Linked DNA regions of Homo sapiens. The protein of the gene in region 6 interacts with the protein of the main gene of each other region in a pairwise test. Each region holds a gene or a part of one and is shown on either strand. Other genes may lie near its edges.

Region 1 (4,259 bases), on a different chromosome or scaffold from region 6:
CCCCCTACCAATTACATAAGATTCCCTGCTTCTAGTTAGCCCGCCTGTAGTTTCCCCATGCCAGCAACTTCCAATAAGGGAATACCTGAAGCCATTCCTTTTTTCCACTGTGAAGCTTTCCCCACTCTTCTGCCTGACTTTCAGTCTGCTGAATGCAAGTGATGAGGGCTGACTCTCTTGTCATATATAGCAAGCTCTGAATAATAGTCTTTGTTCTCATTTGAATAATCTTTATTTTCACACTTCTTAAAAAATTTAATTTCCTGGCATGTTGCATAATGTTAGGTAAGCCATTTTCTCTCTTTGGGCCTTACTTTCTTCAACTGAAAAACTGGTTCAACATTTATTCATTCTTTTATTCCGTAAGCCAAAAATAAAATTCAAAGCCCTCTGACCATATGAATGGATCTCTCCTCTTGGCTAAGGGCATTCCAAAGTTAACGTGAAAAACTGGTTCAGGCCATAATGGGAAGGAGGAGTTGGACATGGCTCATTATGCTCCCCTACCTTTTGAAATTCAGGACCAGCTGACCAGCATTAACATCAACACAGACCTTAAGACTGATAGAACAGCCTCTTTAAGTCTCACAGACTATCCGGTAGTGTGATAATGATGAGAAACATTTGCAGTCTATTCTCTGAAGCCTGCTACAGGCTCCATCTGCATGATAAAACTTTGGTCTCCACAAGCCCTTATCTTAACTGAGACATCCCTTTCTATTGATTCTAAGTCTTTATACAATAACTTAACTCTTTCAACCAATTGCCACTCAGAAAATCTTTGAATCCACCTATGTCCTGAAAGCCTCCTCTTCCAGTTGTCCCACCTTTCCATACCGAACCAACGTACATCTTACATGTATTAATTGATGTCTTATGTCTTCCTAAAATGTGTAAAACCAAGTTGTAGCCCGACCACGTTGGGCACATGTTCTCAGGATCTCCTGGGGCTGTGGCACGGGCCATGGTCACTCATATTTGGCTCAGGATAAATCCCTTCAAATATTTTACAGTTTGACTTTTCGTGGACAATTCTACAAATATTCCTTGGCAGTTAAAGAAATAACTCCCCAGGAGGTGCTAGACATCGGGCGCATGTTAGAGGCACAAAGATGAGAATGTTAAAAGACATAAAATACAGGTCTGCTCTGGGAATGCAAAAACTGGTAAAAGGAGAGATAAAAGAGCAGGTGCAGTCTAGTGAAGTACCCGCTACCTCCTATCAGCAAATATCTGTCCACCTAGGGTGCAGCGAGCTGGAGAGGAAGGGGTGGCCTAGAGCGCAGGGGAAGGATTCCTCCCCAGCCGCCTGCACCCCTACCCCGGTAGCGGTCCCTGGGATCGTCCGTGTCTCCAGGAGAACCGGACCGCTCTCCCCTCCCTCCCCGAGCGAGAAAGGAGGACCACAGAGATGCGGCGCCCTCCGCCGTCCTAGAGCAACCGGAGCGGCCCGAGCCCCGGCCTCCCGGATGCTGGGGCCTGGCGGGTGTGGAGCACGGGGAGTCGGGCGTGGGGCGGGCAGGGAGTGGAGTCGGGGTCTTACTCCGGTGGCTGCAGGGCGCAGGGTAGCCGTGTCAGGCCTGCCCAGGTGCAGAGCGCTCTTCCGCGACCCCAACAGCCTCTGGTCCGGTCTGGCGCGCCCTCGCTTTCCCAGAGGGCGACCTGGGCTATGGCGGCCGTGGCGCTGGCGAGCGGGACACGCCTCGGCCTTGTCCTCGAGCTGCTCCCGGGACAGCCCGCGCTGCCCCGGGCGCGCCGGGTGAGTGCGGGGCCGGAGCCTGGAAGCAGTCTTGGCCCTGCCCTGGGTTCTAGGCCCGGAGACGGGGTGGTGCGGCGGCTGGGAAATGGGGGTACAACCCAGAGTGAGGGGCCTCGAGGGACAGGCAGCACAGCGGAGTCGACACCCCTGGACCTGAGCCTCAAGGAGAGCAGACGTGCAGCGGCACGGGGTTGAGCCGACTGCTGGGGCAGAGCGCACAGAGTGCTGTCGGGGGCGATGAATGGCCAGAATTTCAGAGCTGCCTTTACAGAGCTGGTTATGTTTGAGCTGGGTATTAGGTTGAAAAGGAATTTGCAATGCAGGAGCAGGAAGGAAGAACTGGATATTCAGGCAAGAGTAGCCGCAGGTGCAAGGACACAGAACAGGGTGAGGAAAGAGTTTGGTTTCCCAATGCAATGGTGAGAGGATCGGAGATGAGAGTGGTGGTGGCTGATGATCCTGGCCAGGAAAGCTGGGTCTGTGAGTAGTGAATGGAATTGTCTGTAGTGCAGAGGAATGTGGACTCTATTAGGCAGACAAAGTTGAGCCAGCCAAAGCCTTGGAGCCCTGGAGTGCTGGATAAATAGCTGTGGAGACTTTCTAGTGCGCAAGGACTGAAGTGCAGTGGACCAGAATGGGCTCCTCCACAGTGTGGAGACTGAGACCCTGAAGGAGGCAGTGGCTGAGAATTACGGGAAGTCCCAACGGCTGGAGGTCAGCAGTATTTGTTTCTTAAGAGGATGAGAGAAAGAAGGTGCAGGAGCTGAGACTCCTAGAGATATAGAAAATGGGGACATGGAGATTGGGACGTGGGTAAGCAAGTGAGGTGGGATCTTTGTGAGAGTGTTGCGGGTGGTGGGGGTGCAGGGAGTAAAGTCACAACGAGGATCTGCCCTGTTGAGTACAGTGTTCAGAGCAACCTGAATGTTCTGAGGAGCCCTAGCTGCCTCTGTGGCTGGTGGCAGTGACTGGGGAGGACAAAGGAGGAAGAGTCCTATACAGGGGCAGCAGGGATGGCAGGAATGGGGACGGAAGGCAGTGTGGCATAACAGGCAAGAGCCAGAGTCAAACAGGCCTGGGTTCTGTCTCAGTTCTGGAACTTTGGGGGAAGTTAATCCCTCCGAGTCTCAGTTTCCTCTTCTAAAAAACGGATCTGATAGTAGGCTATGAGACATAACAAAGAATATATGTCAAGTGCTTGGCACAGGCTTAATAAATGATAGTTGTTATCAAGGGTGGGTGACCTCTGAAGGAGGACACATTGTGGAGAGAGGATGGGACCTAGAGCACAGATGTGGTTTGGGGTATAAGGATGAAACAAGAAAACTTTTGCAGACTCATGAAAAAGAGGAGAAAATGTTTGCTGAAATAAAGATGAAGAGACATGAGAAAATTGATGGCTGATGCCTTGTCTCTTTGTACATAGGAGGCAAAAATCTTCTGCTGATAGAGTTCCTGTAGACATTCAGAATCCAGAATCCCCACAGGCACCCCCACAGTACCTTTTGATGCCCTGTCTCCCCTTCCTCTTGGCCTGGTCCTGGGGTTGTCCTAGGGCATTTAAACACATGTTGTTTCAGGAGTCAGTGACCTTCGAGGATGTGGCCGTCTACTTCTCTGAGAACGAATGGATCGGCCTGGGCCCTGCTCAGAGAGCCCTGTACAGGGATGTGATGCTGGAGAATTATGGGGCTGTGGCTTCCCTGGGTAAGGGTCTCTCCCTTTGGGCCCTGCCTCCACCCTTGAGAGTTTGCTGGCTCCTTTTTTCTCAAAGGCTCAGGAGTTGTTGATAACCCTCAGCTCAATGGCAGCTTCAGGCTCTTGGATTTTTAATGACCTAACCTCAGCAGCCGTTGGAAAGTAGGAAGTCCTGGTATCAGTTTGGGCCTTATACAGGACTTCCTTGCTCCAGAGTGAGAGGTGCCAAACCCCTACCCTTGTGTTGTGGGTATAGTGAGAAGAGAGCAAATTCATGGTGCTCCACTGAGCCTTCAGTTCCCTCCCCTCTCGGTTTGCAAGATCCAGCCTAATTCCAAGCATCCTCATGAGGATGTCTGAACTTGAGAGCTCTAAGAGGGAGAGGACAGGTAAGAATTGAGGACTCAATTCCTCAATGAGTGAAATCATCCATTTGCTGACTCAAACAGTTACTGAGTCGTCTGTCAACTTCCTGACCTTTGTAAGTCTCCTGGCCCCTCTCTTGTCCTTTCCCCTGGAATTCCTTTTCTTGTTCTTCCTAGTTATTTCCGTTTTTTTCCCCTCCTACCCCTGAAGACACTGGCCTGGGAGGAGCCTTGGGATTACTGTGTGCCATGCCACTCACCTGCCTGTCCCATTTCTTTCCTTTTAAGCAGCATTTCCATTTCCCAAACCGGCTCTGATTTCCCAGCTGGAGCGAGGGGAAACACCCTGGTGCTCGGTTCCTCGGGGAGCTCTGGATGGAGAGGCCCCAAGGGGCATCTCCTCAGGTGAGTGAGGGCACACGTGCCGGTCATCTGAC
Region 2 (2,398 bases), on a different chromosome or scaffold from region 6:
AGCAAGTGAGATGAGCGCCAGCCACTGAAGGTGTAGCACATGCCACGGGCCATGGGGAGGTGGCAGCTCTGTCCCCACTTAGTCCTGGGGCCAGTTCCACCCTTGGCCAGGCCATGACCGTCCTCTACTGCCATCTCTGCAGCTCATCACTGTCTACAGCCTGCCTGGCATGGACCCTGACTGGCTCATTGGCGAGAGAGGCAACAAGAAGGGCAAGGTCCCTGTCACCTACTTGGAACTGCTCAGCTAGGCAGGTGCCCCCATCCCCCCCGCATTCTGGCCTAGGCAGGAGAGGATGGGCGCAGCCCTGCCACTTAACTTGTTTGTTGGTGACACAGTTGTTCAGAGTGGGGAGAATTCACCCCATTCTGTCCCTGCCCCTAGTCACCTAGCTGTGAGGGTGCCTGAGGCTGAATGGCTCCACCCCTCCCCCAGCCCTGCTTCTGACCTGTGGCTCTGGAGCCCCTGCCCCTGCCTGCATCCCCGAGCACCCCACCCTCCAGGCTCCACTAAGGAGGGAGGGGCTGTCTGCAGCAGCTGCACTCAGCACCTAGGCCAGGGTGGGGCCGCCGCAGATGGGCTCAGGAAGCCCCAGGTGCACTCAGCGAGAGCCCTGCCTTTCAGTTGCCAAAAGCTGCATCAGGGGAATGCGGCAAGGCACACAGGGCTCTGGCAGCCCCTGGGGACTGGGCGCTGCCCCTGGGAGGGGAGAGCCTGGCCAGGGCTGGTGTTGGGCCCGGAGCAGCATCTTCCGGTGCTATCCTCCCCTCCCACCCCTCACAGCTCAAGCCAAGTCCAGCGGCCGCAGTCTTCACCTCTCCACACTCACTTTTTATCTGGTGTTTTTACTTCTGCCTGCGTTTGCTCTCTAGCCAATAAACCGTCCTTGTGTGCGAGTCACCTGGGCTCCTGTCAGGGCCTGGCCCTGAGGGTGGTAAAGGGAAAGGTAGACTCACCCTCTGCCCCACTCTTCCACAGAGTGAGCAGGGGCCCTGTGGCTGCCCCGGCCCCCAGCTCTCTAGTTGGGAAGAAGTGCAGCCCTCCCTGTCTTCTGCGGGGCCTGTGCCTCTCAGAGGGCAGTGCTGTTCCTGGACATGAAGCCGCACAAGGAACGTTTTATTCCTAAGAAAAAGTTTCCTAAATTTGGATTGTGGAGCGGACTGTAGAATGCGTCTGACAGTTCAGTTCAAGCACAAGAAGTGGGTAGCGGTCAGTGCTGTCTGCAGGTCGGGCGTTTCACCCAGCATGTGCCCCCGTGCCATGGGTTCTCATGCCGTCCTCAGTGTCCACATTTCACAGATGAGATCAGCAAGACAGTCAGCTCCTCAAGGGACCACAGTTGGCAAGTGGCCAAGCAGGGACTGAAGCCCAGGCAGCCTGATTCTAGAAACCCTAAGTGATGTCTGTGTTTTAGATGGCCCCTAGCAGGACCTAGCATTCTGACTTCAGTCCTGAGAAGGCCAACAGCCAGTAGGCCCCACTGTTGGGGCTTCTGAAGAGGGGATCGGGGGATGACGGGGGCACGGGGCTATAAATAGGAAGGCACAGAGCTTCAAGAAAGGCTCACCCAGGGATGAGCTCAGCCCACTGGGCCAATGAAAGCAGGGTCAAGGACAGGACCAGCGCAGGCCAAGGAAGGGAATATCTGACAGCGCCCACCCAGCCAAACCCTCAGCCCAAGGACAGGAATGAGGAGATGCTGGTGAACTAGCCATCCATCAGTACCTGCCTTCCCCCGAGGCTGCAGCCCCACTCCCAGGCGCCTGGCCAGGGGAGTTTTCTAGGTTCTGAGAGCCACGTTGTCATCCCTGGGCTTTGAAGTTAAACATCACACAGCTGTCTATAAACAAGATTTTAATATCTGTATAAATAGACCACAGAATTACCAAAACTGCAAAGACAGAGTGTGGAAAACAGGTTTGAAACCCGTGCATAGAGCCCTCTGCTGGGCTGCCGCCTCTCCCCTGGCCGGCAGTGCTGTGGGGAATGCTGGAAAGGAAGGAAAGTTCCTCTAGGGGGCGTCTGCAGCGTGAGGACCTGAGCACAGAAGACTCGGCTCCCCATGCCTGCTGTTGACCTCTTCATCTAGTATAAAAATAACGTCAGTGGGTGGTGGCTGGAGTCGTGGCTACTCCGGGAGGGGGGTGACAGGAGGTGCCCTCCATTGTATAGGCCCTAGCAGCCAGCAGCACCCCTGCCAGCCAGGGTGCAGTGTAGGCTGGTGGAGAGGGGTAGGTGGGCAGAACAGCACTGCCCTATCTTTGCATATGCCGGACAAACGCCTGCACCAACTGGATCAGAGGCTCCTGACTCTCAGGGCTGGCTTTGGAGAGAGAGGTGGACTTGCCCTGCGGCGAGGGGAGGACACCAGTGGCAGGGGAGCTGGGGGCTCCCCGGC
Region 3 (3,500 bases), about 25 Mb from region 6:
CTTTGCCTTTGTTATATTGTTAATGGTGACGCTAAGATAGGTACGTATATACAGGGTTGAGTATTAAGGAAATAACTTGCTCTTTGGAGTCTAGTGGCCTGGATTTGAACCCTAGATCCATCACTTAGTAGCTGTGTAATGTTGGGAAGTTACTCAAACTCTCTCTGCCTCCTTTTTTCTTTATGCTGAGGAAAAAAGTATCTAACTCACAGGATGATCATGAGAATTAAGAGTTAATACATGCAAAGCATTTAGGAAATTGTCCATTGCATAATAAATTTTTTAAAATGCTTATTATTGTTAATATTATTATGTAGAAACACTTATTCCTATTACCTGTTGAGAACTTTTTCATTTTTTAAATAGAAATTAAAACCAACTAATAATTTAACTTTTACAAAAACTTTAAATAGCACATTAGTCTTTATATCATTGTATTTTACAGCGTAATTACTATTCATCAATTAACTTGTATTTCCATGTTTTATAGTTACAGGTCTGAGGAAGAGGTACAGTGACTTAACTAGGCTTACCTGATAAATACTAGGATTAGTGCTGAAATCCAAGTTCTCTTGATTGATTCTTGATTGTAGGCAGTAAATACTTTTCCTTCATAGGCCCTATTTCCCTACTTAATCAGAATGCTTATCATTTAACAGAATGCATATTTTTTATTTATTAAACATTCCATTAGGTAGATGTCGTATAATAGGTTAAAAAAAGATGGGACAGAGGCTTTATTGGTTTAGAAATTTTCCTCACTTAATTTTGACAACTATTTAAATAAAAGTGCTTGGGTAAATAGAAGTTAAATGAAATAAGCCAATAACATGTTAGTTAGGTATTTTAATCATAAGTATATGATATGAATGAATCTGTGTCCTTCACTTATCCTGTATTTATAGAACAATTATAGGTAAAGCAAGGGTGTCCTCTTACCACTTTACTATCTGAGATATAAAAGCAAGTTAATGACAGATCAGAATTTGTCGTAAGCATTTCCAAATACCATCTGAAACATTAGATGAGGCCTTTTGTTAGAGATTTTTTTGTATAGGAACTTGGCCTATAGAAACTTTTACCTTCAGAGTTCTAAAATTTCGTGCAACTTTCATACTCCGTGCTCATTTAATGTACATGGGTGGTCAAGTCTCTGGGTAGACTGAGGTAGACCCAGTACTAGTGATTTCCTTGGGCTCACATAGGTGCCATCTTTTTTTCAGGCTGCCTCTGTGCCTGTAGTTCACATTTATTATCTGTTTAGGATAGATATGCTCCTAGGTTCTCTACCAGGGTATTTTTTTATTACTATTTTATTACTCACCTTGGCAAGTATGAATAGATATTACGGCGTTTATGATTAAATTCATTTAAATCCATTAACGTAACTCCACTTTGTTGTAGATGTATTCGTGTCAATAAATTTCAGAGAGTTGATCCTGATGTCCTGAAAGCCTGTGAAAACAGCTGCATCTTGTATAGTGACCTGGGCTTGCCAAAGGAGCTCACTCTCTGGGTGGACCCATGTGAGGTGTGCTGTCGGTGAGTTCTCAAGTTTAGAGGCTGAACTGATGACCATGCTGGAACTAATTTTATGACATTCTGTCATGTACGGCCTGCCTGTGTATCTTTATGGCCAGGAGCTGGTGGTTTAACTCTCTCAGATGTAAATTTTATGAAATACTTTTCTGGAGGTGATGTTGAAGGACTAGTTAGATTTCTGCTTTATAGCCGAAAAAAGAAACTGATTAGGCGGGGGTTTTCTAGTAGTGCTTTGCCAAGAAGCTTATTGTAGACCAAGAAGTAGACACCTAGATTCCGCTAGGTGTCTATTATCTTTAATTGGTGGTGCACTTGTCTGTCTTCAAATTAAGAAGCTAATCCCAAATAATACTGGATAACCACTTTTGGTTTGTTTCTGTTTCTGTTTATTCTCCCTCTCTCCTCTTTTTTTTTGGGACGGAGTTTCACTCTTGTTGCCCAGGCTGGAGCGCAATGGTGCATTCTTGGCTGTCTGCAACCTCTGCCTGCCGGGTTCAAGTGATTCTCCTGCCTCAGCCTCCTGAGTAGCTGGAATTACAGGCGCCCACCACTGTGCCCGGCTAATTTTTTTTTATATTTGTAGTAGAGATGGGGTTTCACCATGTTGGCCAGACTGCTCTCAAACTCCTGACCTCGTGATCCGCCCGCCTTGGCCTCCCAAAGCGCTGGATTACAGGCGTGAGCCACTGCGCCCGGCCTCCTCCTTTTTGATTATGTAAGTGACTGAGTGATACTTCGTGGTTTTATTTTTATAATGGAAGTTATTTTTCACATCTCCTAATGAATAGAGTTGTGAAAGATCAGTGCTAGGTATGAAATCTTTTTGAACTCCACTTGCTCAAAAACCATTATTTGTGGACCAGGCACTCTCAGTTGTAGGGTTTTCAAAAACGAAAGCAACATTCTGCTTTTAGGTAATTCAGTTTGAAATTGAGAAGAAAAGTAAGCAAATTACATTGTTATCTGATTTATGTTAGAAATGTGTACAAAATGCAGTGGTAGGTTGCACAAAGTAGAAAGTTACTGCATCTGGTGAGGAGTCAGGAGACTACTGAGTAGGTGATACTTGAGCTGGGAGGTGAAGGATGAGCCATGGTTGACCAGGTGACAAGGTGGGAAGGATGTTCTAACTAGCAGGAAGAAGATGAACAGAGGCATGGAATTCCTGCAAGAATTTTCCTGTGGCTCTGCCTTTAGGATGTTTCTATTTGGTTTTGAGGTACAATTCACCTGACCACCTGGCCTCTTTATTGATTGTAGTAAAGTTGCTTTTTGAAGGAACCCTAACTATGTACTCCTAAGGTGGTCGCAGACTGACCTGATTCCAGCAATGAAGGTGGAGGTGAAGACAGGAGAGATGAATTACATGATTATTCTTCCATTAAATTTTGTCAGGACCACCGCTTGAGGTTACTACCTGATTTGCCAGTGGTTGGTGTAAGTTTATTGCTTTTGGAAACCAGATGTAGGTGGTAGAGGTTTGTGATAAACATTCTCCAATACTTCTTTCTCGGGTAGAAAAGGAGCAAGCTATCTCAAATTTAGGTCTGAGAAAATAAACATTTTTAGATTCTGGGACTAATTAAGGACCTGCTTTAGGCTAGTTTCAGACTTGGAAAACTTTGGCCACTGAACCTGTGCAGAAGACCTCCATTTATAAGAAATAGCTGTCAAAAAGCTACTATATTGAATTGTTTACTTTTTAATTTGACCTGCACTTAGATCCTAGTTGGCTCCTATTTAACACACAGTTAAGTTAGTTGTGTGGTTTCTTAACCCATGAAATGTGAGAAGCAGCATTTTAAAGAGGGTTGATGAGTCAGACGCTACCAAAAAATGTCATGTGGTCTGACATAGAGGCAAAAATGAAAAAGCTAAAAAATCAGCACGATTATGTTATCACACAATCAAATAGTTTACGTTCAATATAATGATCCTAAACCATCAGGGGAAAGTTT
Region 4 (3,962 bases), on a different chromosome or scaffold from region 6:
ATGGAGAGGGAGGCCAAGGCTGACTAGGGGCGTCCCTGGGAGAGACCCAGCTACTGCGAGGATGAGGGGTAGGGGGGTTCTACCCAAGTTCCGGGGGCTGGCTGGGAACTCGGAGGCCAATCTCCTTCAGCTGTTCCCATCTCTTCCCAGGGCAAAAATCAAACCATCACCCCCTCTCCCTCCTCCCCAAGGAGAGGACAATTTCCGTTCTGGGAGGGGGGTGACAGCTGCAGAGCGGGCCACTCCCCACCCCCCCAAGCTCCAGCCTGACTCTCATCTAGGGAAACTGCTAAATCAACAATACGCAGTTACGGGTAGGTAGCCCGCCGGCCTGAGTTTCCCCGCACGGCTCTCAGAAAGGGGTTTAGAGGGGGCTTCGGTCTCAGTTCCCGGTTTTCTAGTGGCGGTTGGAAACCAAGGCACGGGCATCTTTCAGGAGGGGGATCAGGTGAAGCTTAGGCCAGTAGGTCCCCCAAGACGTCTAATTTAAATACTCCCAACTGCAAAGGACAGACGCCCCCCACCCCGCGGCCTGGGGCAGCTGAGGTGGAGCCGGGCGTTCAAATCGCGCTCCAAACAAGTCCGCAGCGACCGCGCTCGCAGCCCCCGCCAGGCGGCCCCAGCGGAAAACTTGAAAGGGACTCTGTTTGCCGGCGGCCCTGGGGCGGCTCCGGCGGGGGCGAGGGCCGAGCGATCTCACACACGCCCCCTCCCCAACGCTTCCAAAGAAAATGCGGGGGTGGGGGGGACAGGGCCCACCACAAATCCAAGGGCTCCAAACAGCGCCCGCCGCGCGAGGAAAGGTGGGGGTCAGGAGTCTGGTCCGCTGGTCACCCCCTTAGCTCCCCCCCCATCCGAAGGCGCGACTCTCAGACCACCCAAAGTCCAGGGGGCAAAGGAGGGCGCGGTTGCCAAACCTTCAGACCCCCGTCGCGGGAGACTTCAGGGAGCGGGTCTTTCCGAATGAGTCACTACAGAACCCCCCAAATTTACTGGTGCTTCCTTGCAGCCCGAGGCACCAGCCCAACTCCGCGCACCCCTTCAGATTCCCGGGGGGGAAAAAAGAACAAAAAGAGATCTTGCTCCCACTTTGGGCGTTTCAGCTCTTCTGACAGGTCCCGAAGGTGGCCCCCCATTTAAAAACCGGGGTCACTCGCTTTCCGTCGATCCTACAAATAAACAAAGCCAGGCGCACCCCGCGCTCCCCGCCGGAAAGCAGCCCATTCCGGGCGAGGACAACTTCCCCCAGCCAGAAAATTAACACATTCCTCTCGCGGCGGTTCAGCCCCTCACTCCGCTCCGGGGAAGCGAAGGGGAGGGGGGTCGGGCCGAACTTCATGGGTAAATTTGGGGCCAGTGCAGCGTGGCAGGCGCCGGGGACGTACGCCCCCCACAGTTCCGCAGCTAGAGGAACACCCCCATTCTCCCTCCCAGGCTCTGCACGCTGCGTGGCCCACGCGGGGCTCGGGAGACAGCTCAAAAGACTCCCCAAGGCTGGGAAAGGAGGGAGGGAGGGGCCGCGGGGCACCGTGGTGGTGGGGGAGATACTTTGATGGAAAAAAAAGGTCAAACTTCATCAGCCCGCCGGGCACCCCGCGGGCAGCGGGGGCGAGGAGCCGGAGGAAAAATGCAGAAGTAGCCGCCGCTTCTTCCAAGTGGTGGGGGAGGCTCAGCCACGCGTGGTCGAGGGCGCCCAGAGCAGTTAACGTCGCCCCTCAACACAGGGCTGCGAGCGGGGTCTGATGGGGGGAGTGCGCGCCAGAGATCTACAAGCAGCCGCCCCCGCAGGCTGAGCGCCCGCCCAACGCCAAGAGGTGAGGACCCCGGGCGCCCGCTGCCCCAGCGCCCGCGAACTGGAGTAGTGGGGGGGAGGGGGGCGGCACCCCGCAAGGAGCGTCCCAGCCCCACTCCACGGCGCCCAAGCCGCCGTCCCAGACCCTAAAACCCCTCTTTTTGTCTGAACTCAGTGATCTGCGACCGAGCATACTGCGGCTTAGGGAGGCTTGGGTATAGCAGCGGCCACCAAGCGATCACCGGCGCTAGGTCTCCCAGGCTCCGGGGCTCCGCGGCTTACGGTGCGGGCGCCCCCCGCCCCTCCCAAATACGGACCCCTCCTTCCCCGTCCCCGGCTCTCCGCACCTGAACTTCGGGGGAACCCGCGCAGCCAAACTTTCCGCCGACTTGCAGCGAACTCCGGCCCCGGCCGCGCACCGAACCCCGGGGGAGGAGAGGGAGGTAGGCGGGGAAGGGGAGGGGGCCGGCCTCCGGGGGGGGTCGAGGGAGGGCCGTGGCCCGACACCTACCGGCTCTCCGAGTCGTCCAAGCCGCCACCGCCGCCGTCGCCGCGAGGCCGAGGGGGAGGGGCGGGGCAGGGAGCTGCGCTCCGCTCTGGGCACCACCGCCGCGGTGCGCTCCGCTCCAGCCGCCAGCAGTGCCCGGGTCCGGAGCCCGAGTCGCGCCGCCGCGGCTGGCCCGAGGCGGGGAGGGGGGGGAGCCTGCAGCACCTGCCCCTCCTCCCCCTCCCCGCGGCCCAAATTAAAAAACAACAAAAAGCAACTAATCACCCCCGAGCTGAGCGCGGCTCGCGGGCGGAGGGCTCAGCGTGCGGCGCCCGGACTCAGCAGGCGGCGCGCATGGCTGGGCGCGGGCTGGGCAGGGCTGGGACGCGGGGCCCGGCTTCAGGGGATAAGGCTCTGCCGCTCTTCTCGCTCGGCTCGGGCGTCTGCTCTTGCCGCCAGTGCCGCCTCTGCTGCCGCCGCCTCTACATCCCCGCTCAGGCTCAGCCGCCTCTGCCGCCGCCGCCGCGCGCCCGCCCGGGCAGGAGCTATGAACGCTGCCCGGGGGCTGCCGGCAAAACCCGGACCGGACTCGCCGCTCCCTCCTCCCCCCAACCCCCTCCACCTCGGCTCCCCTCCCTCCTCCCGCCGCCTCCCTCCCAGCGCAGCTCGGGCCACTTGGACGCCGCGGGCTCTGAGGCCGGAGCTGCAGCCGCTGCGCCTCGAGCTCCCCGCGCCCTGACGCGGTCCACCCAGGCTCAGCTCCCTTGCGCGCCCCGTCTTCGCCTATTTCCCGCAACTTTACAAAAAAAAAAAAAAAAGGACGACCTCCCCGCTTTGGTGAGGCGGTCTGGGTTTAGAGACGCACCTCCGGGGAAATCTGCTATCTTTCTGCCCCCTCTAGAGCGGGGCCAGAAGCTTCGAGGACCGGGAGGGAGAATTTGGCCGCGCCCCCCAGCTCAGGTGCGCGGCGGGCCAGAGATTCCTAGTCGAGGGTCCTGGGAGGTAGACGCGTGTTCCAAGACCCCACCCTTCCAAGAGCTCCTTAATGGATTCAGTGGGCACTAGGGCCCCGGGAGAAAAGGGGCGGAGATTCCCGTTCCCATTTCTCAGGTGAGGAAACTGATCCGAGAAAGGATATTTTATCTCTCAGGCAGGCATCAGCCTCAACTCTTGAGTCCCGGGGCTAAAACGACTACGTACATTTGGTGCCCTGAGACCATGGCCTACGCACTCAAAACCCGAAACAATGCTTGGAACAGCAGCGCTCAATAGGTACTGATTGAAAGACAGAAGGAAAACTCAGCCTTGCCAGAGTAGGCGCCCAGTGGGGACAGAGTTGGGCCCGCATATCCCGCTTTCACTCCATCAGTGGCCTCCATATGCCCATCTTAGGCTAATTAATCCTGCTGCTGCAGATGTCTTCACCTCACGTACCCATGGTGCAAGCCCCGGGCTCATATAATCCCAACTGCATATAATCCCAAAGTGGAAGTTTTCTCCAATTCTTTGGGATTCGTGGGGGCGGATTTGTGCAAGGCCGACCTTCCTCTGCGAGGCGAAGAAAACGCAGTCCCCAGACCCAAGCAGGGGAGGGAGAGGGGGAGGGCGGTTGGGGAAGTCAGCCTAGGGTTAAACGTTACAGCCTGAGATCGATTGGGGCCCAGATAACAGGGAGTTAACTGT
Region 5 (3,500 bases), on a different chromosome or scaffold from region 6:
GTCAGAGCAAAGACTCCCACATAAAAGGAAATAGCTTCATCCCTGAGCCAGAAGCTGAGCAAGACCAAACCTGAAGACGTTACTCTTTCCAGGGACTCTCCATGGCTAAATGAAGGGAGGATGGTTGGCCCAAGATCCAGGAAGACAGAGTGAAGGGAGAGGTAGGGAGGCCAGAGTCTCATGGCGGGTGCGATAGGCATGTTCTTTCAGGAGAAGGGGGCATCTTTCTAGCCCATTGCGTTCTGCTATCTTGTGGTATGGGGTGTGGCCCATCTGCTTCTTTATTCTTGCTGGACCTCTCTAGACTTGCTCTCCCGTCATTTTTGGCACCTCACCTGGCCTCTAGGAATGTGATTAGTTCACTCCATCCTGACTCAGAGGCAGAAATGGCCCTGGATTCTCAGAATGGTGGTGGTGGCAGAATTTATGGACCTACTGTATATAATTTTGTTTTGTTTTGTTTTTTGAGACGGAGTTTCACTCTTGCCACCCAGGCTGGAGTACAATGGCAGAATCTCAGAATTACAGACATGCACCACCATGCCCGGCTAATTTTTTTTTTTTTTCGAGATGAAGTCTCACTCTGTCGCCCAGGCTGGAGTGCAGTGGCACATTCTCGGCTCACTGCAAGCTCCACCTCCTGGGTTCACGCCATTCTCCTGCCTCAGCCTCCCAAATAGCTGGGACTACAGGTGTGTGCCACCATGCCCGGCTTATTTTTTTTATTTTTAGTAGACACGGGGTTTCACCGTGTTAGCCAGAATGGTCTCAATCTCCTGACCTTGTGATCTGCCCGCCTCGGCCTCCCAAAGTGCTGGGATTACAGGCGTGAGCCACTGTGCCTGTCCTGATTTTTGTATTTTTAGTAGAGATGGAGTTTCACCATGTTGACCAGGCTGGTCTCGAACTTACGACCTCAAGCGATCCACCCACCTCGGCCTCCCAAAGTGCTGGGATTACAGGCATGAATCACCATGCATGGTCAATTCTCTTTTTTTTTTTTTTTTTTTTTTTGAGACAGAGTTTCGCTCTTGTTGCCCAGGCTGGAGTGCAATGGCGCGATCTCTGCTCACTGCAGCCTCCACCTCCCAGGTTCAAGGGATCAAGGGATTCTCCTGCCTCAGCCTCCTGAGTAGCTGGGATTATAGGCACGCTTCACCACGCCTGGCTAATTTTGTACTTTTAGTAGAGATGGGGTTTCACTATGTTGGTCAGGCTTGTCTCGAACTCCCAACCTCAGGTGATACACCTGCCTTGGCCTCCCAAAGTGCTGGGATTATAGGCGTGAGCCACCGCACCCAGCCTTTTGTTTTTAACTAAACATTTTATTTGGAAATTTTTTTCCAAAAAAAAGCAAGAATATTTCTGTGGTCTCCTATGTATTCCTTACCTAGATTCATCTATATAAAGCCATGTTTGCATGTCCTCTCTTTCTATATACAAATATATATGTATATAGATAATTATGTTATATCATAAATATATCATTCCTATTCTTTCTTTAACTACTTAAGACTAACTTGCAGACATGATGCTCCTTTACCCATAAGTACTTCAGGGTATATTTTCTAAGAATAAGAACTTTTTTTTATGTAACCAGTAGTTTTCAAAACCAGGCATTTGACACTGATTACAAAGTCAGTGTTATAATGATTTAATAATCATGATAACTAGATTAATGTAGACCATAGACTAGATTAATCCAGTCTACAATCAGATGTCAACTAATACTGTCACTTTATAGCAACTTTTCTTTCTTGCTTTTTCTTATTTTTTGAGACCAAGTCTCGCTCTTGTCACCCAGGTTGGAGTGCAATGGCGCGATCTTGGCTCACTGCAACCTCTGCCTCCTGGGTTCAAATGATTCTCCTGCCTCAGCCTCCTGAGTAGCTGGGATTACAGGTGCCTGCCAGCACACCCGGCAAATTTTTGTATTTTTAGTAGAGATGGGGTTTCACCATGTTGGCCAGGCTGGTCTCGAACTCCTGACCTCAGGCGATGTACCCACCTCGGCCTCCCAAAGTGCTGGGATTACAGGGGTGAGCCACTGTGCCCGGGCCTATAGCAACTTTTCTTTTCTTTTTCCATTCCAGGATCTAATCCAGGATCATATGCTGCCTTTAGGTGACACATCCCTTTAGTCTCCTTTAATCAGGAGCAGTTTCTCAGTGTTCATCTTCCATGAAGTCGACATTTTTGAAGAGTATAGGTAGGTTATTTTGTATATTGTAACTCAGTATGGTTTTGTCTGATGTCTCCTCATTGATTAGGTTCAGGTATGCATTTGGGGTGTGAACACCACAGAAGGGATGTTGTACCCTTCACAGTGCATTATATCAGGAGGCACATGATGTCTTATATCTCATTACTGGTCACGTTAACTGATCACTTGACTAAGTGATACTGCCAAGTTTTTCCAAGGCAAAGTTACTTCTTTTCCTTTTATAATCATTAAATGTCTTGGGGTGTGGGGCATTTAGATACTATGGCAACCATGCTTTATGGTCTATGCTTTATGACCTATATAATATTTCAAAGTATTTGAAACAAATAAGAGATAAAGGGTATTTATTTGTTTGTTTATTTATTTATTTAATTTTTGAGACAGGGTCTTACTCTGTCACCTAGGCCAGATTGCAGTAGTGGGATCATGGCTCACTGCAGCTTTGACCTCCTAGGCTCAAGTGATCCCCCCACCTCAGCCTCCTGGGTAGCTGGGACTATAGGTGTGCAACACCATACCTGGCTAATTTTTTATCTTTTTTTGTAGAGACGGGGCTTTGCCATATTGCCCAGGCTGGTCCCTAACTCCTGGCCTCAAATAAGGTGTAAGCCACCACACCCAGCTAAAAGCATGGATTTTTGTACAATATTTACAAAGGGAATTTGCAATTTCCAAGACAGGCCTAGCTCTTTACACTCTGTTCTCTGTTCTCTCTTTCTCCATCTTCTTCCCCCCACATGTCTACAGGTGTCAGATCTTTTTCAAGAACAGCAGAAAATGATCGAATACCAGGTAAGTATCACATTAAGTAGCCCAGTTTTCCTTCCTGGGGAAACTGTCCTAGAGGAAAAAAAGGGTGTGCATTGTAAGTATGTACAGTTTGTACATACAGGCTGGGTTCTCAGGGAAGCTGACTCATAGATGGAGATTTTTCTCACAGGAGGTTGATTAGGCAGGCTCTTAGAACACCTGTAAGACAGTGAGGGAAGCTGGATTGGGCTGAGGGAATTGTTGAACAGAGGCCTTAGTGGATCTTATCCTCTGGAGCTGGGATGGCCTTCAGCATTGTTGTGAATGGAGGCAAGGAGGCTTTTATATTCTGAAATCAACTAATCATTGATTGTAGGCTGCCCCGAGGAGGGTAGATATCCTTGGATGGTGCAGTACCCTTTGGCCAAGGATAATTCTCAGAAAGGTTTTAAGCCGGCCGCTAGGGGTAGCTCATGCCTGTAATCCCGGCACTTTGGGAGGCCAAGGCAGTTGCATAACCTGAGGT
Region 6 (3,500 bases):
CCCTAGTAAGGGGAATGTATCCCTTCTAGAGTAGGGCTTGCCAAGCTGCAGCCCACGGCTCACTCCCTGTTTCTTTTTAAATTATGGTTTTATATGTACGTTTATAGAGTTTGAAATTTGCCATTTTAAAGCATGCTTTCAGTGGCATTCAGTACGTTCAGTGTTGTGCAGCTGTGAGAATGATGCATTTCTGGAGCTTGTCCGTTATCCCAGACAGAAACTCTGTACCTATTAAGCAACAACTCCCCATTCGACCTCCCCCAGCCCCTGATAGCTTTTAATCTACTTTCTTTCTCTATGAATTTGCCTATTCTAGATGTCGCATATAGATGAATTCATTCTGTATTTGTCCTTTTGTGTCTGGCTTCTTTCATTTAGCACGACGTTTTCAAGGTTCTTGCTTATCCATTTGTCTGTTGATGGACAATTGAGTTGCTTCCACATTTTAGCTATTATGAATAATGCTGCAGTGAACATTGGTGTGCAAGCATCTGGTCGAATCTCTGTTTTCAGTTCCTTTGGTTATATACCGAGGAGTGGAATTGCTGGGTCATATGGTGATGCTGTTTCGCTTTTTGAAGAACTGTCAAATGTTTTCTACAGTAGCTGCAGCATTTTACGTTCCCACCAGCAATGTGAAAGGGTTCCACCTCTTGGTTTTATACATAAAGTGGCGTGCAGTTCCCAAACTAGTGCTGTCAGCTTCACCTGGGAATCTGTTAGGAATGCAGCTTATTGGACGCTATCCCAGACCTGCCGAATCTGAAACTCTGGGGGTGGGGCTAGCAATCTGTCTTTTAATGCTTTCTGGGTGATTCTGATCTAAGTCAAGTTTGAGGACCCTGTCCTGCAGCATTGGTGTCACCCTTCATGGGTGGCCATATTCAAACACTCTGAGACCAAAATAGAGAGTAATTGATTTCCCAGTGACTCAGTGGAAGAGGCAGGTGTCTGCCCCTCTCTGTCATCGGTATTATCACCTATGTGGCAGCGAAGTGTTCCATAGTCATAGTGCTGATGCTCAGATCTTTGGAATTTTGTGATAGTCACAAAACTGAGAAGTAGGCAAATATGCTTGGCAAAATTGGCACATGTTGGCTGCTCACCATTGTCGGAATTGTACATTTTTTATTACAAAGTGTTCCATGTTCAGACTTGATGAACTCTCATTCTGCTTTCCTTGAATTTTATTTTTCCCCATAATCCTTGACACTTGAGCTTTTGCGTTTATGCAAATCCATATCATATGGACATCTTAGGAACTTCTTAGGCCTAAGCCTAAAACAAATGGCTGTTTCTTTTATTATTTATATAAAGAATAATATAAATAATTATGTTTCTACTAAGCTCAATAGACATATAATTATATAATACACGATTTTTTATATTAGAGTTGCAAAATGTGGCCGAACAATTGAAAAGACCACTTACTCCTGGTCACTCAGTTCTGGCCACTTAGTCCTGGCCATGTCTTAGCTATTGCAGGCGACTGCGACATGCTCATCTGAAAGCCTTTTGTGGCACCCATTATAAAGCTCGCTGGCCCAGCATTGCTCTGGAGACTTTATTCCTCACCCTGGCTCTTTCAAGATCCATTCTCAACCCTGAGATTATACCATGGATAGTCAGCAACTGGTCTGATTCCTGAGTGACGTCCTAAAAAGGCTGAAACACAAGCCAAAACCTGTCTTTCAAAACTTGTCCTTCCTCCCTCACTTTTAATATTCCAGACCAAGATGACACAAATGTTGGTAAATGTACATTTTTGCACTTAAAATAGGAAAGAGGAGAAGAGGAAGAGGAGGAAGAATTAGTAACTGTTGTTCCAAAATGGAAAGCTACCCAAATCACTGAATTGGCCCTGTGGACACCAACTCTCCCCAAAAAGCCGACCTCTACGGATGGACCTGGCCAAGACGCTCCAGGAGCTGAGAGTGTGGGGCACCCCCGGGCTGTGGGGTGGAGGGGGCAGAGGGTGTGGGGCACCCCCGGGCTGTGGGACAGAGGGTGTGGGGCATCCCCGGGCTGTGGGGTGGAGGGGTCAGAGGGTGTGGGGCATCCCCGGGCTGTGGGGTGGAGGGGGCAGAGGGTGTGGGGCATCCCCGGGCTGTGGAGTGGAGGGGGCAGAGGGTGTGGGGCATCCCCGGGCTGTGGGGTGGAGGGGGCAGAGGGTGTGGGGCACCCCCGGGCTGTGGGACAGAGGGTGTGGGGCATCCCCCGGGCTGTGGGACAGAGGGTGTGGGGCATCCCCAGGCTGTGGGATGGAGGGTGTGGGCGCCTTTGGGCTGTGGGAGTTGTGGACATCCTGTTTTCAGGCCAGGTGTGGTTGGACTCTCTGAAAATCAGATGCTGGGTCAGTTGAGTGTGCGGGATGTTATTAGGGAGAGCCTTTGGGATTGGAGGACACTCCCGGAGAGCGGAGGGGAGAGGAAAGAAACAGAGTTGATTGGACAGAGGCGGAGGTGTGGCCTCCACAACCTTGCTTCATTCCATGGGGAGCACTGTGGCGTCTCGGGGACCCTTATCCCCTCACCTAGGTCAGTGAGTGAATGTGGGTGTGACCCCGGGCTGGCACTGACAGCAGCTGAGGGGACAGCCCTTCCCTGAAGAAGGGTCCGTGTGGCACCTCCATGTCCAACCCAGTGGTCTTTCTGGAAGTCCTTAATGTGCTGGGGAAAGTTGAAGGTGGCTACCCCGGGTGAGATCCCTTCCATGGCAAGCGGAGGAAAGCCAACTCCGATTGGCCTCCGTGAAAGAATACTCATGCTGCTAAGAATTTCTTGGCTCATGTGACTGGGAAGCTCCGGGACAGCCCCCAGAATGGCCGGGCAGCCTCTGCCCTCTGTCCCAGCTCTCCTCTCTGCTGGCTCCCCTGGCTGGCACTCTCAGGAACCCCAGGGGACTTCTCTTTCTCAAGAGTCTCATCAACACCCTCAGGAATGAAAGTTATCAGACTACCTGCTCCCATCCCCAAGCCACTGACTACAGTGGGGACTGGGCTGCTCCCCTGGCCAGGCCTAGGCTGGGCTGGGTGGATGTTGAGATGGGGAACATGAGGTGCTGCCAGTGGGAGGGGGAGGGTGGGGGCACGGCAGCCCAGGGGACAGCTGCCCTGCACAGGTCTGCAGGCTCCATTTTTCCCAGGAACTCAGGCTTCTGACTTGTGTTTTATCTCAGGTGCAGGAGAACCCGGGGAGGAGGCCCAGGCTCTGCTGGAGGGCTTCGAGGGTGAGATGGACATGAGGCCTGGAGATGAAGATGCAGACGTCCTCCGGGAAGAGAGCCGGGAGTATGACCAGGAGGAGTTCCGCTATGACATGGATGAGGGTGAGGTCCCTGCGCAGGGAAGTGGGGCGAGGGCCCGCACTTAGGGGCCACGAACAGTGGGATTCCCCTTCCCTTCACCAAGGCCTGCCTTCAGCTGGGCCCCAGGGACTCGAGGAAGGCTTAGGGGGCCCCCTGTGAGCGCTCACTGGAGCCATCTCAGAACGTTGCTCCCT
Region 7 (3,500 bases), on a different chromosome or scaffold from region 6:
CATGTATCACTGTGTACATAAGAAATCACTCCTCCAACGTTAGCCTAATTGAAGGGCTAGACTAATTAGTGAGTCAACTGGCCACTAGTCCTCACTGGCATCTTCTCTTTGTTTTTTTTTTGGAGTCTCTCTCTGTCGCCCAGGCTGGAGTGCAGTGGCGTGATCTCGGCTCACTGCAAGCTCCGCCTTACGGGTTCACGCCATTCTCCTGCCTCAGCCTCCTGAGTAGCTAGGACTACAGGCACCCACCACCACGCCTGGCTAATTTTGTTTTTCTCTTTTTAGTAGAGATGGGGTTTCACTGTGTTAGCCAGGATGGTCTCGGCTAGTCTTGATCTCCTGACCTCGTGATCTGCCCGCCTCGGCCTCCCAAAGTGCTGGGATTACAGGCGTGAGCCACCGTGCCCAGCCCTCACTGGCATGTTCTATAAGCTCAGCCCTGTGCTGGATGTACAGGGTTGGGGAGGGGCGATTTGAGAGAAATGAAAAGACAATTGCTGCCTTTAAGAAATTTACAATCCAGTTGGGCGTGGTGGCTCATGCCTGTAATCCCAGCACTTTGGGAGGCAGAGGCGGGTGAATCACGAAGTCAGGAGATCAAGACCATCCTGGCTAACACGGTGAAACCCCGTCTCTACTAAAAATACAAAAAAATTAGCCGGGTGTGGTGGCGGGTGCCTGTAGTCCCAGCTACTCAGGAGGCTGAGGCAGGAGAATGGCATGAACCCGAGAGGCGGCGCTTGCAGTGAGCTGAGATCGTGCTACTGTACTCCAGCCTGGGCGACAAAGTGACACTCTATCTCAAAAAAAAAAAAAAAAAAAAAAAGAAACTTACAATTGGCTGGGGGCGGTGGCTCACGCCTGTAATCCCAGCACTTTGGGAGGCCAAGGCGGGTGGATCACCTAAGGTCAGGAGTTCGAGACCAGCCTGGCCAACATGGTGAAACCCCATTTCTACTAAAAATACAAAAATTAGCTGGGCGTGGTGGCATATGCCTGTAAGCCCAGCTACTAGGGAGGCTGAGGCAGGAGAATCACTGGAACCCGGGAGGTGGAGGTTGTAGTGAGCCAAGATCGCACCACGGTACTCCAGCCTGGGCAACAGAGCAAGACTCGGTCTCAAACAAACAAACAAACAACAAACAAACAAAACTTATAATCAAATAGAAAATGAAGAGGTCCTGGATGGTTTCCTGGAGAAGGCAAGACTTAAGTCGACCTTGAAAGAGGGCAAACAGTCTCGGAGTAGGGGGAGCCTCACCTTTCTTCCTTCCAATCAGGAATATAACATGCAGGGGTCTGAGCACTCCCCAGTGGGCTCACCTGTGCTGCTTGTGTAAATCCCAGTCTCGCGGACCCTGAGATGAGCAAGCTGGTTGCGAGGCGCCTGGGACCTGAAGTTGCACCTCCTGGCCTCTTCCTCCTCTCAGGCTAGGTTGTAATTGTATAGCTGGGGCTTGCATTTATTCACCATCTTCCTGCTGCTCAGGGTCTCAGAGTTCAGAGATGACTGTGGATTATCCAAGGCTGGATTTGGCTCTCTGACCTCAGCTCACGCACACAGGTGCACACACCCCTCTTTTCCATTACCCTGACACTTGACTACCTTGTTTCTTCTCCTCGCCTCTAGGTTCGCAAGGAGCTTGAAGTAAATGGCATTGAATTCTACCCCCAGAAGGAATTTGATGAGGATTTGGAGGATAAGACGGAGAATGACAAAATCAGGGTGGGTGCCTGGGGCACTGCTCCTCCACTGATGCCCCCTTGCGACCTCTGGGATGTGTATTGTGCACGTCCTCTGTCTGTCTTTTCCCTTTCTGTACTCCCCCCAACCTTGCCTGACCCAGACCAGAAGTGACATAGGGGGATGGGGAGGACTATGGCCCTGGACTGTGAACCCACAGAAGGGCTCCCTGTACCCAGAAAGCCTTCTATCCCCAGACCACATAAAAGCCTCCTTTTCCCCAACAAGGTCTGGCAAAAACAGTATTTGGGGTGATGGGAGGGGCAGCAGGCAGGAAGAGCATCAGGCTGGGGTCCAGGAGGATCTATGCTGTGGTCAGACCCTGCCTTAGTTTCCCCTCTATGAAATGCAGGGGTTAGACTGAGTGGCTTATAGGCTTCCCCCGCTAGAATAACTTAAAAAAATTAAATTGGCTGGGCGTGGTGACTCATGCCTGTATCCCAGCACTTTGGGAGGCCTAGGTGGGAGAATCGCTTGAGCCCAGGAGTTCACGACCAGCCTGGGCAACATGGCAAAAACTTATCTCTACAAAACCTGCAAAAATTAGCCAGGCATGGTGGCGCATGCCTGTAATCCCAGCTACTCGGGAGGCTGAGGCAGGAGAATTGCTTGAAGCCAGGAGGTGGAGGTTGCAGTGAGTTGAAATTGTGCCATTGCACTCCAGCCTGGGCAACAAGAGCGAACTCTGTCTCAAAAAAGAAAGTACAAAGCGCTCTGCAGCTGAAGGAGAGCTGATTCCTGAGGTTAACCAGTGAGGCAGTGGTACAATTGGGACTAGACCCAGGACTCTTCAATCTCAGTCGGGTGCTCTTTTCAAGAGACTGAGCCTTGCCCTTGCCATCAGTAGTATCTCTGAATGAGCATCAGAAGTGTGTGGTTCAAGGCTAGAGGACCATATGCCATCCTGCTCCTGAAAGTCCAGGTTGTTGGAGGATGACGGTGCACATGTGTCTGGTTTGTGTTTCTGCCCCGTGCAGCAGGAGAGCATGCCTTTTGCTGTGGTGGGAAGTGACAAGGAGTACCAAGTGAATGGCAAGAGGGTCCTCGGCCGAAAAACTCCATGGGGGATCATCGAAGGTAATTCACTGCATCTTCTGGAAGAACTGGTTGCTGATCAGTTATCCAGTCACCATTTATTAAGCATCTATAGGTCAAGGCACTGTCTCAGGACATATGAAATGAATGCCAGCCAGATTCTGCCCATAAGGAGCTTACAGTCTCATTGAGAAGACGATGCTCACAGGCAGGAGTAACAAGAGACTGATTTAGCACCTGACTGGGTGGCACTGACTTAGCGCATCAAAGGAGTTCAGAACATGGAGAGATTAGTAAGGCCTGGAAAAACTGGAGAAAGGTTTTCATAGGAAGGGGGATGTGATCTGACAAACTGCCGGAGGGTTGTTCAGGTGTTGCCATTTCCATTTTATTATGAATGGATGTGACCCTGGGCGGGTCTTGATGATTCTGAAAGTGGTCAAAGAATCACTTTAATGATTTCATTCAATATGATAACCCTATGAAGGGAGGAGAGCGGGTGCTCCTGTTCTCAGAGTATAAGCTACCAAAGCACCGGAAGCTCAGGTTAAAAGCCTTGTCCAAAGCACATAACTTGTTAGTGGTGAAACTTGATTTCAGACTCAGATTTTTTTTTTTTTTGAGACGGAGTCTCACTCTGTCATCCAGGCTGGAGTGCAGTGGCGCAATCTCAGCTCACTGCAACCTCTGCCTCCCAGGTTCAAGTAATTCTTCTGCCTTA

What was found.
Region 1: the proteins of RSPH1 (region 6) and ZNF662 interact in a two-hybrid assay, tested with the Homo sapiens proteins (one large-scale study listed by BioGRID and IntAct).
Region 2: the proteins of RSPH1 (region 6) and SH3GLB2 interact in a two-hybrid assay, tested with the Homo sapiens proteins (one large-scale study listed by BioGRID and IntAct).
Region 3: the proteins of RSPH1 (region 6) and BTG3 interact in a two-hybrid assay, tested with the Homo sapiens proteins (one large-scale study listed by BioGRID and IntAct).
Region 4: the proteins of RSPH1 (region 6) and CXXC5 interact in a two-hybrid assay, tested with the Homo sapiens proteins (one large-scale study listed by BioGRID and IntAct).
Region 5: the proteins of RSPH1 (region 6) and ZNF793 interact in a two-hybrid assay, tested with the Homo sapiens proteins (one large-scale study listed by BioGRID and IntAct).
Region 7: the proteins of RSPH1 (region 6) and SEPTIN3 interact in a two-hybrid assay, tested with the Homo sapiens proteins (one large-scale study listed by BioGRID and IntAct).

The regions. Positions count from the first base shown.
Region 1 is NC_000003.12:42,904,683-42,908,941, forward strand, and holds the start of ZNF662 (zinc finger protein 662), read left to right. Parts: upstream 1-1,459; 5' UTR 1,460-1,486; exon of another isoform or gene 1,487-1,669; coding exon of another isoform or gene 1,670-1,759; intron 1,760-3,339; coding exon of another isoform or gene 3,340-3,432; coding exon 3,433-3,466; intron 3,467-4,110; coding exon 4,111-4,227; intron 4,228-4,259. UniProt on the Homo sapiens protein: May be involved in transcriptional regulation.
Region 2 is NC_000009.12:129,006,536-129,008,933, reverse strand, and holds the end of SH3GLB2 (endophilin-B2), read left to right. Parts: intron 1-142; coding exon 143-250; coding exon of another isoform or gene 251-392; 3' UTR 393-1,898; downstream 1,899-2,398. Other genes in the region: nucleoporin NUP188, read right to left, coding at 2,256-2,398.
Region 3 is NC_000021.9:17,602,902-17,606,401, reverse strand, and holds part of BTG3 (protein BTG3), read left to right. Parts: intron 1-1,404; coding exon 1,405-1,542; intron 1,543-2,125; coding exon of another isoform or gene 2,126-2,257; intron 2,258-3,500. UniProt on the Homo sapiens protein: Overexpression impairs serum-induced cell cycle progression from the G0/G1 to S phase.
Region 4 is NC_000005.10:139,647,187-139,651,148, reverse strand, and holds the start of CXXC5 (CXXC-type zinc finger protein 5), read right to left. Parts: upstream 2,801-3,962; 5' UTR 2,304-2,800; intron 2,199-2,303; exon of another isoform or gene 1,968-2,198; intron 1,815-1,967; exon of another isoform or gene 1,421-1,814; intron 161-1,420; exon of another isoform or gene 1-160. UniProt on the Homo sapiens protein: May indirectly participate in activation of the NF-kappa-B and MAPK pathways. Acts as a mediator of BMP4-mediated modulation of canonical Wnt signaling activity in neural stem cells.
Region 5 is NC_000019.10:37,520,439-37,523,938, forward strand, and holds part of ZNF793 (zinc finger protein 793), read left to right. Parts: intron 1-92; exon of another isoform or gene 93-161; intron 162-2,093; 5' UTR 2,094-2,209; intron 2,210-2,971; 5' UTR 2,972-3,001; coding exon 3,002-3,016; intron 3,017-3,500. UniProt on the Homo sapiens protein: May be involved in transcriptional regulation.
Region 6 is NC_000021.9:42,475,725-42,479,224, reverse strand, and holds part of RSPH1 (radial spoke head 1 homolog), read left to right. Parts: intron 1-1,780; coding exon 1,781-1,934; intron 1,935-3,177; coding exon 3,178-3,327; intron 3,328-3,500.
Region 7 is NC_000022.11:41,989,943-41,993,442, forward strand, and holds part of SEPTIN3 (neuronal-specific septin-3), read left to right. Parts: intron 1-1,630; coding exon 1,631-1,726; intron 1,727-2,721; coding exon 2,722-2,821; intron 2,822-3,500. UniProt on the Homo sapiens protein: Filament-forming cytoskeletal GTPase. May play a role in cytokinesis.